Homo sapiens: one gene and its partner. The protein of the gene in region 2 purifies or fractionates together with the protein of the main gene of each other region. This does not show direct contact. Each region holds a gene or a part of one and is shown on either strand. Other genes may lie near its edges.

Region 1 (3,500 bases), on a different chromosome or scaffold from region 2:
CTCAGGAACAGCAAAGCACTTGAACATACATACCGCATATCCATTTTTCAACCATCGGATTGTAGGGATGGGCTTTCCTGTGGCCACACAAGGCCAGTAGAGATCACTGCCTATGTCCACCTCTGTGTCATTGATGTGTTCTACCCACTCAGGGAATGCTAAAAAGTAAGGAACATTGTAAATGTTAAATGAAGGGCTCAAGATCCATCATAATCTCCAGAGTATAAATATTACATTTAGTTAACCTAATTCTGCAGAATACATCAGATAGTGTATGCATCCTGAACTCAGTAATAGGCCTTGTCTTTGCATAGGCTTAACCTACGCAAATCCTGTATTATTACAGCAGGAGGTAACTATAACTCAGCCATTATTTTTCCATTTGTAAATCATGTTTTGTTGAAAAGCTGAGTTATAATTATTACTAAAATAACTGATTTTTTTCTGCTCATAACATAAACCTTTCAAGTCTGTCAAAATGATAATTGAGGTTTTAAAGAATTACATCTCAATTCAATATGATACCATCTCTTAACATTTTGGATAAAGACTCAGATATTTTTCCCACTCCCTCAGGTATACATTATCTTCATTTTGATGGAACTTTCAGCTAGTGGCCACGGTAACATCTCACTTTGGCGCTAGAAAAATGACTTGGACACCTAAATATACTCTTTCCATATTAGAAACTATATACAGTAGCCATGATTGGTGAAATCCATGCATTGGTAAAATTGATCTCAGTCTCATTCTTTAGTCTGATCTACTTGATAGCTAAAGAGACATCCATAAAAATGAGAAAATGCTAAAAATTTTCCAAAGAAAAAATATTTTTAGAGAACAAGCAAATAAACAATTTGACAGTCTTTTTGATTATTTCAGTTATCTAGTCCAAATAAATGCAGATAAATAAATTAATACAAAAAGGAAGTAGGAAGAAAGAATCCTGAGTGGAGAATAATATTTAATTTTCTTTGAAACTGGGAACTTGTGTTAATTTTATGGCAAAAGCAATATATGCATCTTATAAAAAACATTTAACAAGTAATAAAATACTAGAAATTTAAAAACTAGAAAACATTTTTATCTCACCAAATACCATCAACATTATACATTATAATGTATACATTATACATGTAGACATATGTACACCTATATATCTTAAAGCATATATAATCTTATTTAGTACATGTTTTCACTCATCATTATATTTGTAACATAGGGAGATATTTTTTAAACTATTGGTGGATATGTTCATTGTAAGGGAGAAAGGTTTTATTTTGTATACAATCTTAGCAATACATAATACAGGAATATCAGCACCCTTCCTGTCTTGGCCTCACAAAGACAACACAGACATTTTCTATTACATCATGTAATGAATAATTGAATTGGCTTGACACAGTCTATATATGGCTTAATTATGTAACCTTCTAGTGATGTGATCAGACCTAAAGATAATACTTAGTATGCTGCATTAGTAAAGAATAAATAATATTTCTCTTAAATTACCTTCTGTAAATATGTGCTCTGTCACCTTGGTTCTTCTAAGGCTTTAGATATTAGACAGTTCAAAATTTTACTCTGTTGAGAACCTGGAGTGTAGTTTTCTTAATATGTTGAATAAAAACAGGTCTATAAGCTTTAGAAACCTAGTAGAAAGTGGTGGATTTATTTCAAAAGTTTAAAGGACCTTACCTAGTATTTTCTTCCTTTTAGGAGGCCATTTCATGCAGACTTGATATGTATTGCATTAATGTTACTGTGGCATTGGACATACGAGTCTGAAGTTCAGAGTAAATGTTTGGGTTAGAGCATTCAGGGTACAGAGTGTGTCTAAAGCCATGATCACGAGTGGGATCATAAATGGAGTGACTGAAATGGAGATGGGGTTCACAGATGGAACCCTGATCACACCAATGTTAGAAAAGTATGGAGTTGAAAGGCAATGGAGAATGAAAGATTATACAAGGAAATTAATAACAAAGTAGGTTGCAGACATGAAGTGCAGAAAGTGAATCATGAAGAAGGGAGGGACCAACTGTGGCAACCACTGCTGTTAGATCAAAAAAAAGTACAACTGAGAATTGATCATTAGCTTTAGCAATATGGAAGTCTGTGGTCATGAAAAGAAAGGTTTCTGTGGAGAGGCAGAGATGCAAATCATGTTGGAGTGCAATTAAGAGAGAAGAAAAACTGGAGATGGAGACAACACTTTTAGAGAGAATGCGTGAATCTGTCAAATTTTTTATTCCTTTTTGGGAGAGACGGGAGAAAGTGAAATGGGACAGTAGCCAGAGTTAAAAACGAATAATATTGTGGAAGCCCTCGATGTTTATTCACTTGTGACCTGCAAAGTTCATGTTGTGGAACATTATAGAAATTATTTCAGTCTGGAAAGTTTCCAGTGTGGCCTGAAAAAAAATCTGTCTTCCCAAATGTAAGTTTATTTTAATGTGTGAAAATCAAAGGTTTGTGCCATGATAATTTTGTCAAAAAAAAAAAAAAAGATTTCTTAAACCAGTGGTTCTCAAAGTGTGACTCCAGGACCAATATTATCAGCATCCTTTGGGAATTTGTTAAAAATACAAATTCATGAGCCCCTAACAGACCTCTGAATGAAAAATTCTGAGAGTTTGGCCCAGCAATCTGTTTTAACAAGCCCTCCATGTGATTTTGATGCATGCTTAAGTTTGCAAACCACTGACTTAAACTAAGTCATAACACATAGCTTCTTCTATAAATAAAAAGATACTGAAAAAAGACAGTGATAAAATGAGTAAACAAACTACATTAAGTGTATATTCTGAAAATTACCAATAACACTTCTATCAATCTATTGCTATTACCTATGGTTCAACTGGTAATAAGTTCGTAACTTCTATAACTCATAGTTGTGACTTCATTAGACATATGAGAAATATTTTATCTTTCTCCATGATGTAACATGCATCACTGTTTTTAAAACCATTAATCATTATATAGTAGTTTTTCATGTATGGAAATGGCTCTAAATAAGATACTGATGAAATTTATACAAAATTAAAATAATGTATCTACCTTGAACATAAATTCTTGCTTGATGTTTATCCTTTCCTCTAATGTTCTCAGCCTCACATTCATAGATGCCTTCATCTTCTAGCTGAATATTGAAGATCTTAAGAACAGCCCCAGAGGTGCTAATCTCAGCAGTGCTTGGCATTGGTTCTAGAACCTTCCGCCATCGGATATCCGGAACAGGACTTTAAATAGAAGATACAAGGGTTAAAGTTTCACACACTTAAAAGACAATTACTTTATGTTTATAGCTAAACAATTATTTATTTCCTAAAATGGTACTATTTCTATATATATTAATAAAAGTGTCAGTATACTTACTTTCCAAGTGCAAAACATTCTAAGGTCACATTTTGGCCCATCAATGCATATACATCCTTGAACTGAACTACAATATCAGCAGGATATGGTTTTGTTGTTCCTAATATTAAGAGAAACACAAA
Region 2 (4,207 bases):
GACTATAGGCGTGAGCCACTGCGCTCGGCAAGGCTGTTTTTTTTTTTTTTTTTTTTTTTTTTGAGACAGAGTTTCACTTTTGTTGCCCAGGCTGGAGTGCAATGGCACAATCTCAGCTCACTGCACCTCTAACTCCCCGGTTCCAGCGATTCTCCTGCCTCACCCTCCCGAATAGCTGGGATTACAGGCACCCGCAACCACACCCGGCTAATTTTTTTTTTATTTTTTTTTGAGACGGAGTCTTGCTCTGTCGCCCAGGCTGGAGTGCAGTGGCCCGATCTCAGCTCACTGCAAGCTCCACCTCCCGGGTTCACGCCATTCTCCTGCCTCAGCCTCCCAAGTAGCTGGGACCACAGGCACCCGCCACCACGCCTGGCTAACTTTTTTGTATTTTTAGTAGACGGGGTTTCACCGTGTTAGCCAGGATGGTCTCGATCTCCTGACCTCGTGATCCACCCGCCTCGGCCTCCCAAAGTGCTGGGATTACAGGCGTGAGCCACTGCACCTGGCCAATTTTTGTGTTCTTAATAGGGACAGGGTTTCACCATATTGGTTAGGCTGGTCTCGAACTCCTGACCTTAGGTGATCCACCTGCCTAGGCCTCCCAACGTGCTGGGATTACAGGCCAGCCCGGCCAGAGGCTGTGTTTTCTAAAGGACTTCAATTAACTTCAGGTGCATAAACCCTGGGCTAAGGTCAGAGGCAGCGGTTCTCTGCTGGAGAAATTTTACTATTCCAGGGCCATGAAGCAACATCAACAGACTTTCGTTTTTTTTGGAAACAGGGCCTCACCCTGTTGTCCAGGCTGGAGTGCAGTGGTGACATCACAGCTCACTGCAGCCTCAATCTCCTGGCCTCAAGCAAACCTCCTTTTTCAGTCTCCCAAGTGCTGAGATGACAGGTGTGAGCTCCCACATCTGGTATGAGAGAATTTCTGGCTGTCACATCTAAGGTGGGGTACTCCTGTCATCCAGTGAGTCGAGACCAGGGATGTTGCTGAATCCTGCAGCACACAGGAGAATCCCCTACAACTAAAGATTACCCAGCCAGATGCGGTGGCTGAAATCTGTAATCCCAGTGCTTTGGGAGGCTAAGGCCAGCAAATCCTTGGAGCCCAGGAATTTGAGACCAGCCTGGGCAACACAGCATGACCCCATCTTTACCAAATAAAAAATAAAAATTAGCTGGCATGGTTGGCGTGCTCCTATAGTCCCAGCTACTCAGGAGGCTGAGGCAGGAGAAACTCTTGAGCCTAGGAGGTTGAGGCTGTAGTGAGCCATGATCATACCACCGCACTCTGCCCTGGACAACAGGAAACCTGTCTCAGGAGGAAAAAAAAGATTATCCAGCCTGAATGTCAATAGTGCTGAGATTAAGATTCCCTGCTCCAGAGCACTCAGAAACTTGTGGGACAGAAGCAGCAGCAGGGCCGTGCACTGACATGGGTAAAGCAGGAAGCCAGCCCCAGCGCGACCCGCCACAGCGCACTGTCCTCACTGGAGCCCCTGCCCTTACTAAACCGCATCTACTGATGCCTCTGAGCAGGCTCTGTTGGTGGAGCTTGAGACTGCGCTCATGAATATCCCACAGGTTTAGAGCCTCAGGCCTGTATTGTGTTATACAAGCCTTACTGTAACTTAATCAGAAATAAAGAAAATAGGCATCTATGATAGACTAGACAGCTCTGACTGACTCACTTTTTGTCTCTCAGCTGTCGAAGGCGGTGAAACACATTGATGACGTCCCGTATGCGTCTTGGGGCCTCTTCTATCTTGGAAGCCAGGTGGACACAGGCCATTGACACATGCTGAAGCGGAAGCATTGCAACACGCCCATGTTTGTCCCCAGCCACGGCGTCCTGACGGCCGCCAAAGGCTTGAGGGCTATTCAGACCAAAAGGGAGGTGCACCCAGGGGAAAAAAAAAGTCAAGAAACAGAACCCTCCGGCACAGAGCTCAGACTGGGGGGCAAGTACTCACTCCCTTAGTAACCGGGCAAAGTAACAAACCGTTTTACCCTCAACATACTTCGCTGGGAATGAAGTGCAGGAGGAAGCCTTACCTCCATGGAGTGCTTCACGAAGGACTTGGTATAAAAGAACCGCTGGAACAACACCTGCCCGGTAGCCATGGCCACCTAGAGTAGAAGAAAGTTTCCGTATTTTCAAACGCACCATTCAAAGCCTTCGCGGCCGAAAGTCATCGAGTAACGTGGGACTCCCCACGCAGAACCAAACACTGAAACGCTTCCCACGTCCACAAAGGCTCTTCGCGTCCCGCCGTCTCGGGATCCAGCGCACTGGCGGGCGGGGAGGCCCCGGGTCAGGGGCATGGGCTGGCTAGGGAATGGCGCCGAGGCTGGGGTCGGGGCAGGGGCTGGGGTCGGGGTCTAGGCGGGGGCGGTGCGGGCCCGACTCGCCGCCAACAAAGGCGGCTGCCGCCCCAGCGGTTACCTGGGCCGGAGGCTCGCGGCCGCGCCCTCACCTGCGGCAGGCGGAGCAGGATACCGGCCGCCTGGATGAGCTCGCAGCCCACCACGCGGAGGTCGGTCTCTGTGTCGGTGTCGAGGCCGCTCGACATGGACGGCGTGAAACGGAGCTTGTCGTCAGGCAGGAGGCAGTTCTCCAAGGTGATGAGCACCCCGGAGTACAGCCTGTCCCCGATCAGCACCCCCTGCGACCCTGAGGGTGCGCCCCCAGATCCCGGGGCGCCGGCCGCTGCCGCGGGAGCTGCCGACCCTGCAGCACCAGCCGCCGCCGCCGCCGCCGCCATTTTGTGCCGCCGACTCCCCTTCGGCTTCTTCCCTCAGGGCGGCTCCTCGCGAAGCTCCACGGCCGCCACCGCCCCGCCCCGTCGCGTGCCATTGGTTCGGCCCGCGACCAGCGCGACGCCGCCTAGCCGCAATTGGCTACATAACCTGCCCGTCAGCAACGCGCCTAACGCCGACGCCGGAACCTGGCGCGGGTGGGGCGGGCTCGTTACCCAGGGGACTCCGCGGTGCCGGCCGACCCGGAAGCATGTCTGTCCCTAGCGGAGGCGCGGGTGCCGTGCTGAGAGCGCCTGCCTGTGCGCCCCGAGCGGGGCTGGGACTCTTCCAAGATGCCCACGTTCGCACAGAGACCCCGGATCGCGGAAGCTCGCGTCTCGAAAGGCCTGTGGGTCAAGGGGGGCCATCTCGGTGGGATCTGGGGCGGGACGACCCCCACTGCTGAACCCTGGGCGCGGGGCAGGGTCAGAGGCTCCGCTCGGCCTCCCCCTGGATGAGACGCGCATGCCCGGTGTCCCCCGGCCGCCGTCGGCGTCGTGTCTTCAGTCCTTATCGACTCCAGACTTTGGGGATGCGTATTAACGCCAGACTCCTGCAAAGTCTTGCCTTCAACACTCAGCCCCTGGGGAGAGACGGGTGGAGGGATGACTGGAAACGTGGCCTCGACGTCCCTACAGAGCCCCTCCAGCGTGGGGAGGCCTAAGTACCTCAAGGTTCAGGCCCACGGAAGGAGTCGGGGGAGCGAGGCCCGGTGATCTACGTGTGAAGGAGCTTGGACAGGACCTCACAAACGCCAGGGAGACGGCGAGGGGGTTCGTGCGTTTGTAACGTCTTGACATCGCTGATCCTCCCGCAGGCGGTCTCACGCCCTGCCCGTCCTGGGTTCACGGTTTTTCATCACCTGCGGCTGTCCTGCGATCGACCACAGCTGTGCAGGAGGGGCAGGAGGTATCTGTTGCTGCAGTTACCGGAACCTTTGCCAGGACTAGTACAGGACCACGGGTGAGGATGGTGGGGAAGCCTGCGTGGGGCAGGGAACGGTGAGGCAGGAAGAGGGAAGGGCAGCAGAGGCCTGAGTGGTTGCAGGTTCACACACTGAGCTGCCAGTAACTGCCCAGCTCAGACGGGCTCAAATTCAGAAGCCACCATTGCTCCTCACCCCCACCCCCAGGTCAGCTGTCCACTAGCTCTGCCATGACTTGATACTGCAGCTCAAACAGTGCCAACCAAAACCCACTCTCCTCACCGCCTGTTATGGGTAACACGGTATGGTTACAGCTTTACTCATGTCCTCTTTCCCCAGGCTGGTAGCTCAGGGATGTCTCGTCTGTGAGTTACAGCTGCACGCTCTCCAGGAAAGAAGGAATTTCCTCTTCTCTGGAAACCCCACCACACAGCTGGTTTCTCATTGGTGCTGCTTGCCCATTCCCTGAGCTGTGAC

What was found.
Region 1: the proteins of CCNL2 (region 2) and CNTN1 purify together in Homo sapiens (affinity purification with mass spectrometry; 3 studies listed by BioGRID and IntAct, with this or other methods). This does not show direct contact.

What each region holds. Positions count from the first base shown.
Region 1 is NC_000012.12:40,933,439-40,936,938, reverse strand, and holds part of CNTN1 (contactin-1 isoform 1 precursor), read right to left. Parts: intron 3,479-3,500; coding exon 3,379-3,478; intron 3,243-3,378; coding exon 3,061-3,242; intron 159-3,060; coding exon 34-158; intron 1-33. UniProt on the Homo sapiens protein: Contactins mediate cell surface interactions during nervous system development.
Region 2 is NC_000001.11:1,396,536-1,400,742, forward strand, and holds the start of CCNL2 (cyclin-L2), read right to left. Parts: upstream 2,801-4,207; 5' UTR 2,772-2,800; coding exon 2,484-2,771; intron 2,137-2,483; coding exon 2,062-2,136; intron 1,884-2,061; coding exon of another isoform or gene 1,808-1,883; coding exon 1,698-1,807; intron 1-1,697. UniProt on the Homo sapiens protein: Involved in pre-mRNA splicing. May induce cell death, possibly by acting on the transcription and RNA processing of apoptosis-related factors.